Homo sapiens: one gene and its partner. The protein of the gene in region 2 purifies or fractionates together with the protein of the main gene of each other region. This does not show direct contact. Each region holds a gene or a part of one and is shown on either strand. Other genes may lie near its edges.

Region 1 (3,671 bases), on a different chromosome or scaffold from region 2:
TCTTGCATGACTCAGTTTCCAGCTTGATTTTTCCTTTTGGCAGAGTGAATTAGGGTCCCAAGTTTTTATTTTCCCTTCACAGGGGCATGGTGTGTGGGAGGGGGGCCAGATGGTTTTCCAGGGTCCAGTCCCAAGAGAAAGAAGAGATGGGGAGGCTGGAAACCTAAGTTTTCAGCCCAACAGACCAATGATGAGTGGATGAGGGGCCACTGTGAGGAGACTGGGGATGGTATTGGAGGACCCTAGAGAGAGAGGGGGGCTCTCTCTTCATTACTGCGATGAGATCCTGGGCTGAAGAGGGGCTGTGTCCAGCCTTAGTGTGCAGTGTGTGTGTGTGTGTGTGTGTGTGTGTGTGTGTGTGTGTGTGTGTGTGTGTTGGGAGAGAAGAGTAGAGATTGGGGCACATTCTGGAAGTGATGAGGGAGGGGCTTCCAGGCAAGTGGGAGCTAGTGGAGAGGTGTGGGGCATGGGGAGAATTGGGGAGTGGAGATGAGAGGGGGGAAGAATGGACAGGCACAGAAGGGGACCTCAGTTAATGTTCATAAGCCCATGCCCCCACCCCGAGGAGGATGGGGGCCAAGCCGGCTTCCTTCCCTGCTAGCCAAGCCAGCAGGGGAAGTTGGCTGCGGAAGTTGCGGGTATCAGCCTTATCCTGCGTGAATACCTGGGACAATAGGATAGGACAAAATAGGGCAGACACCGCTCCCTGACCACATTTCCTGGAGGCCAAGGCAGGGTCTAGAGAGACAGGCTGGGGGAAGGGATGGGAGAAGCCCACTGTAAGGTGTGAGGCAGGTGTAAAAAAGGAACAAATGGAATCACAGAATCCAAGGTTAAAATCTTGAGCGATCAGAGTTGGCCCAGAAGGGACATTAGAAATGTAGCAATTAAAGCAGGTGCCCAGGGCAGGAGTAGTTCTATACATCATCTCACTCAACCTTCAGCTGAAGTTTTTGGGGTGGGAGCTGGGATTATTCCCATCAGACAGAAGAATAGCCTGAGGCTCAAAGAGGTTAAGAAACTAACCCAGCTGGTAAGGGAAGAACCAAGATCCAAACCCAAGTTGGTGTGAGCCCACACTCCAAGCTGTTTCCTGCTATAAAACCCCGGCCTGGGGGCCCTAGATTGCTGCAGCAGTGATAGGGCAGCCCCAGCTCTGTTGAGATTTGCTAAAAAGGCTGCTAGAAATGACACTTGTCCCTCTTCCTGGCAGTTGCACTGCATAGGAGGGCTACAACCCCAGGTGGCAGGCTTGGCAGTATTCACAATTCACTCAATCTCGTTTGCTGATCAGAGTCTTGGGGAGAAGGGATGCACATTCTGATGAATACAAAATCAAAACGTGAATTAAGCCATCCTGAAAGGACTTGAGAGAGGAAACCTTTCCAATTCTGGGCTCTATGGTGGGGCAGGGGGAATTTCCATTTCAAGGGGGTTTGCAGAGAACAATGGAGATACCCTGAATTCACCGAAAGCCCTCGGGGCTGGCCTGTCATTGTGCCCCCATCACTGGGAAGAGGAAGGGCCAGAGCTGAGGAGTTGGATGGCCAGGGTCAGCCAGTGGGTCAGCGTCAGAGCCCAGCCTCACAGCTGCCCCGCAAGTGGCACTCCCTCTCCCTGCCTGGAGAGAGGAGAGTGGCTAGGAGGCTGGGGAAGCAGAAGTGAGAACATCCCTGTAGAAGGGCCACAGGCTGAGCGGAAACCGGGGGCTGAGCCTGACGCCAACAATGTGTTTCCGCCCACACAGGCTGGGGGGCGCCTGGCAGCCCCTCGGAGGCTTGAATCAGCTCTCACTTCCCTCCTTTGCCCCTATTTTAGGCCCTGGAAAAATGCTGACGCTGCAGAGGCAACGGGCCTTCTTCCCGGACAGCCTGATAGGGGTTTCAAGTTCTCTTTTCTCCTTCAAGAAAATTTTCCTTAAAAGAGATTGGCTTCCCAGTAAACACAGATGTGTGGGGGTGCCGGGGTGAGCTGCTGGGTGTAGACTAGGTAATAAACATAGTGACTAACTCTTACTGAGCCATTTATTTGGTGACAGGTGATGTTCTAAAGTCTTCCCATGCATTTAAAATGCCTAACATACCAATGAGTGGGTACGATGATTGTCCCTGTTTTATAGGTGGGGAAACTGAGGCATGGCACCTCCCCATCCCACTGTGCTGCAGACCAGATGTCCATTGGTGGGAGCGGGCACACCAGGAGATTCTTGGGACCTCTCTAACTCTGCTGGGCTAAGATCCTACATCTCTTTTTTTTTCTTTCCCATATGAATTAAGCTGAGGACTTGGCCGTGAACATTCCATTCATTTGTTTCTTCATTCGGTGGTAGAAATACGTCCACTTTGTACACAGGGTTAAAAGAGTCCATTCCTGGGGAGTAGAAAGATGGCATCACAGCAGGGAAGACTGAGGCAGGAGGCTGAGGACCCCAGGGGGACAGAGGCCTGGGTGAGAGGCTGAGCAAGCTGCAAGCCCCCTTTCTCAGAGGAGGGACCTCCTGGACATCAGAGACATCAGTCTGTCCCTGAGCAGGTTGAGGGTTAGGAGCTGAGCAAATGACCAGGGGGCAGGGGCTCGTTCAAGGTGGTCCCTTGATGGCACAGCACCATCCCTGCCAAGCTACCACCCATCTCAGAGTCAGGACGGCCCAAGGGGCGCATCCTAGACCTCACTTCTGTCTGCTGTCCCTCTCTCCCACCAGGTCAGGGAATCCCAGTGATAGAGCCCAGTGTCCCTGAGCTGGTCGTGAAGCCAGGAGCAACGGTGACCTTGCGATGTGTGGGCAATGGCAGCGTGGAATGGGATGGCCCCCCATCACCTCACTGGACCCTGTACTCTGATGGCTCCAGCAGCATCCTCAGCACCAACAACGCTACCTTCCAAAACACGGGGACCTATCGCTGCACTGAGCCTGGAGACCCCCTGGGAGGCAGCGCCGCCATCCACCTCTATGTCAAAGGTGAGGAGTCTGAGCCTCCTCCCAAGAGGCCTGACCCGGCAGGCCCCACTACAATGGGCCCTAAAATTAACAATCGTAACAATTCAGCTCTGCATTTACTGAGTGCTGGCTATGAGCAAGGACCTGGAAGAGCTGCTAATGTAATGCAGTCCTCACAACAACCCTGCAAGTCGGGTCTATGATGATGCATTTTCTAGAAGTGCAGGGAGGTTATCCAAGGTCACACAGCCTCACATAGTGGGACTAGACTGGAGCCCAGGTGCGCCTGACTCTGGAGCCACCACGCTGAAGCATCCGCTGAACTGTCCTGGCGTGGTGTGACCTCAGATGAATGATCAGCCTCTCTGAGCTTCCTTGTCACCTATGTCCAGGTACTCCTTGGCCCAGTGGAGGGAGGGCAGTTGTAACCCTGTGCCCTCCTCTACTCTAGACCCTGCCCGGCCCTGGAACGTGCTAGCACAGGAGGTGGTCGTGTTCGAGGACCAGGACGCACTACTGCCCTGTCTGCTCACAGACCCGGTGCTGGAAGCAGGCGTCTCGCTGGTGCGTGTGCGTGGCCGGCCCCTCATGCGCCACACCAACTACTCCTTCTCGCCCTGGCATGGCTTCACCATCCACAGGGCCAAGTTCATTCAGAGCCAGGACTATCAATGCAGTGCCCTGATGGGTGGCAGGAAGGTGATGTCCATCAGCATCCGGCTGAAAGTGCAGA
Region 2 (3,600 bases):
AGGGCAAGTGGCAGCAGGGTGTACCTACGGCAGGTGGGTGCCTGGCCTACCTCTCAGGCTATGATCCAGGAGTGCCAGGTGCCAGCACTCTCCCCTCCCCTCTATCCTTCTCTCCGTTTATTCAACAGATATTTGCAGACTGCCTGCTCTGTGCCAGGCCCTATGTTAGCCACAGAGAATAATAATAGCAAAGCAAAGACATTTATTGATCTCAACTCACACTGGGTCATGGCACACATTAGTTCACTGATCCTTAGATCTGGCGCCCCCTCAATTACATGGCACAAGATCCCAGTGGACTGGCATGGGAACCCTGCGGCTGCGGGCAGAATCACCTAGCTGGGCCTCCTGGATTTCTAGGGTGTGTGGGGCTTGGCTGGTTCCCCAGGACTTCAGCTCCCCCACTGAGCCACTGTACTCCTGGCCTCCCATCCTGGCCCCTCTTGGGGGAGATGGCTGCTGCTGAGGGAGGGGGAGGAGTACCTGCTCCTGCCTCAGTGTTCCATTCAGTCTACATTTTCTGTGCCCAATCTTCTTCCACTTGTTGAAAGCATCTCCAAACAGCCCTGGCCCAAGCCAAAAGTCCTTGGCCTCTCTCTCCATGCCAGGTTCCCGCGATTCTGCATCCTAAATGCTCCTCCAGCCCAGGCCCTCCGCGCCTGGTGGGCATCCTTGTGTTTGCCGGCTCCTCCCGACCTCTCTGCAGCTCGCCTTTTGTCGCACCAGGCACACAGTGGGGACCCCTGCTCCTCCCCGTTCCCTGACTCCCTCTCCTGCACCCGCGTCCAGGCCCTGTGCTGGGCGCCTGATGTCACAGGGTAGCCGGTCACCGTGGAGGCTGGGGCCGGGGACTGCGCCGAAGTGAGCCGCGCCACCTCTCCCGGTGCACCCCCCAGCTGGGCGCCAGCCGGCGAGGAGCGACGGGAGCCTGGGGTGGGTGGCGAGGCGCGGACAGCCCAAGCCCGGAGGCAGGAAACCTGCGCACGAATCCCCACCAGTGCAAGCCTCGCCGACGGATGCGGGCTAATCCTGCCCGAGCACCGCCCCCGCCTCAGTTTCCCTCTCTGTAAACTGGTAAAGAAGAGTTGGCCCAGAAGGTCTTCAGGCGCCTTGTAGCTCGACTACTCAAGAAGAGCTGCACCAAGCTCGCTTTTCCCTGCGCCGCTCTCCTAGCGACTCCCGGATTCCGTGAGCGGCAGTCCCCACGTCGCCCCTCAGGCCGTGGCGACAGCTCTGCAGAGATCTAAGAACGATTGCGAAAGGCCTCAGCCGCCGTCGCCCGTCTGCGCCTGCGCTGGCCGCGAAGCGTGCTGGGACTTGTAGTCCGATCGCCCCGCAGCTGGGGAGCCAGGCGGAGCGGTGGCGTCGAGGTGCCTACACTTCCCAGGGTGCTCCCGGGCGGCAGCGGGGGCGCGGGGCGGGGCCGCCAGGAGGGGCGTGAGAGTGGGCGTGGCACGGGCGTGGCCTGCGCGCCGTGGGGCTGCGGCGGCGCTGCCTGGCGTGTGCGCAAGGAGCGGGCGCGGAGCCGGCGGGCGGGCGGAGGATAGCGCGGGCGCGGCACCTGCGGGCCCGAGGGTCTGGCTGTCGCAGCGCCGGGCCGCCCCGACTCCGAGCGGCTGCTGAGATGAGTGCAGGTGGGTGCTGGGGACCGAGGGACCAACGGGTCCCCGCGCTGGCTCGCGGCGCCGCAAGGGCTGGGTGGCATTCGGAGGCTGCACCTGCAACGCCGGGGAAAATCACCCAGCGGCTCCACCCAACTTTTGCTCCAGGATTTTGCAGCCCCGAGGGGCCAGAGCGCAGCCCTCTGCCCTGCGCCCGGAGCGCGTAGCTCAGTGGCGCGGGCCGGGGATCCTTTCCCAGCGCGCCGGCCGGCGTGGCTGCGCCAGGATGTCTGGAAGGCGCCCCTTCTTTGCTTCTCACGGGGGTCCGGGTTGTTCCAGGCTGCAGAAAGCGGTCAGGGTCCGCGCGGGGGCCTGGGGTCCGGGCGAAGGGCCGGGGCCCCAGCAGACCTAGGCACGCAGAGGTGAGATGATAGGCGGGGCTTTGCAGCTGGGGGCGCCGCCCTTGCGCCGCTCTGGCAGCGCCTGGGTTGGGGGCGTCAGGCCGACCCTCGGCGCCCAGGACTCTCCGCAGCAGATCTGGGGACCCGGAGCCCGCATGTGTCAGACCCGGCCCCGACCCGATCTCTGCGCGTCTCCAGCCCCTCGCCCCTGCGCGTCGCACCCCTGCCTTTCCCGCCGCACCCACCCTCCGGGATCTGACAGCCTCTGTGCGGGGCTGGAAAAATCCCACAGCGCTGGAGCCCAGCCGCGCCTTGTGCTGTTGGGGAAACTGAGACCTAGAACTGGAGCCCTTGGCGGTGAGCCCTGGAGGCGGCCTGAGGATGCCCGGATCTGAGAGCCTCCTGGGGCCCGCACCGGGCTGAGGGCTTGTCGTTGCATTCCCGGCAGGGAAGGGCTGTCACCCCATTTTTCAGGGTGTGACCCGAGGCGCACCAGGCTTGAGTCACTTGCTTGGCTCAGGAAGGGGGGGCGGGGATTCGAACCCCGGGCTCACTGACTCTTGTGCTCTTTCCTCTAAGCCTGTCGCGCCAGGGACTGCAGTATGGCCCTTGGCCATGGTGCAGAAACCAATGGGGACAGCCGCTTCCCCTGAGGGAGATCGGACTGGGGAGAGAATGTGAATTTAGTAAGAGCTTCCTGTGGGCTGTAGGCCTAGAAGGGGGCGGGGGCTAAGGGCCAGGGACTCCCCTCCCTGGGGAGATTGTCTCCCTCCCCCTCCAATCCAAGGAAGGAGGGACGGCGTTGCCGGGAGCCTTTGGGAGTAGCTGAGAGCAATGGCAGGCGGTTGGGGAGGTCAGAGGCAGAACCCTTTGGAAGAGGATTTCTGAAATGGCCAACCTAGTTATCTGGGAGTGGCTGGGGAGCAGGGCACCCTGAGACTTGGCAGAACCTCCAGACACATTTATCTAATGGCAGGTGGGGATAATGGCTGGGTGCACACAGAGTAATTTTATGCTTCTTGTGGCCATAATTGATACCTGTGGTCCCCCCTGTCATCAGGGAGAGCCTCAGAAGCAGTGCTGGCATCTCTCCTCTGCATCTGACGAGAAGGGGTGTGGGGGCACTGGGGCAGTTGGGGGCAGAGACTGGGGTTTGAACCATGGTGACTGCCTGGTGGTCTTAGGCATAGGTGGCACCTTCCAGAGCTTGGCTTCCTGACCTGTAAGAGCAGTAGCATTGGTTGCCTGGAGGGGACAAGGTACAACATGAAGAGCCCCACACCTGGGAGGCCCTCGGTAGTTTGGGATGGTCATTGCTGGGTGGCCAGCTCAGCTCAGACCCTCTGAATCAATCCAGCCCTTTGGAACTGGCAATGTGTGCTCTCCGGGCCACCTGTCGCCCCTGCCCAGCCCTGTCCCCAGCCGATGATGCGCACAGCAGGCATTCCACCCACACAGTGGGGGAGAGCAGACAGCATGGTCCCTTGTTCCTGGCATGTGGGCTCTAACGTCCGGCCACTGTGTATGTCTGGCAGGACAGGAGCTTCCATCATCAACAAGGGCAACAAGGGCAGGTCCCCTGTGGCCCTCCCCACACC

What was found. Proteins that work in one complex are often made in the same cells at the same time.
Region 1: the proteins of ABLIM2 (region 2) and CSF1R fractionate together in Homo sapiens (co-fractionation; one large-scale study listed by BioGRID). This does not show direct contact.

Annotation. Positions count from the first base shown.
Region 1 is NC_000005.10:150,080,055-150,083,725, reverse strand, and holds part of CSF1R (macrophage colony-stimulating factor 1 receptor isoform a precursor), read left to right. Parts: intron 1-2,701; coding exon 2,702-2,959; intron 2,960-3,389; coding exon 3,390-3,671. UniProt on the Homo sapiens protein: Tyrosine-protein kinase that acts as a cell-surface receptor for CSF1 and IL34 and plays an essential role in the regulation of survival, proliferation and differentiation of hematopoietic precursor cells, especially mononuclear phagocytes, such as macrophages and monocytes.
Region 2 is NC_000004.12:8,156,714-8,160,313, reverse strand, and holds the start of ABLIM2 (actin-binding LIM protein 2), read left to right. Parts: upstream 1-1,500; 5' UTR 1,501-1,624; coding exon 1,625-1,634; intron 1,635-3,600. UniProt on the Homo sapiens protein: May act as scaffold protein. May stimulate ABRA activity and ABRA-dependent SRF transcriptional activity.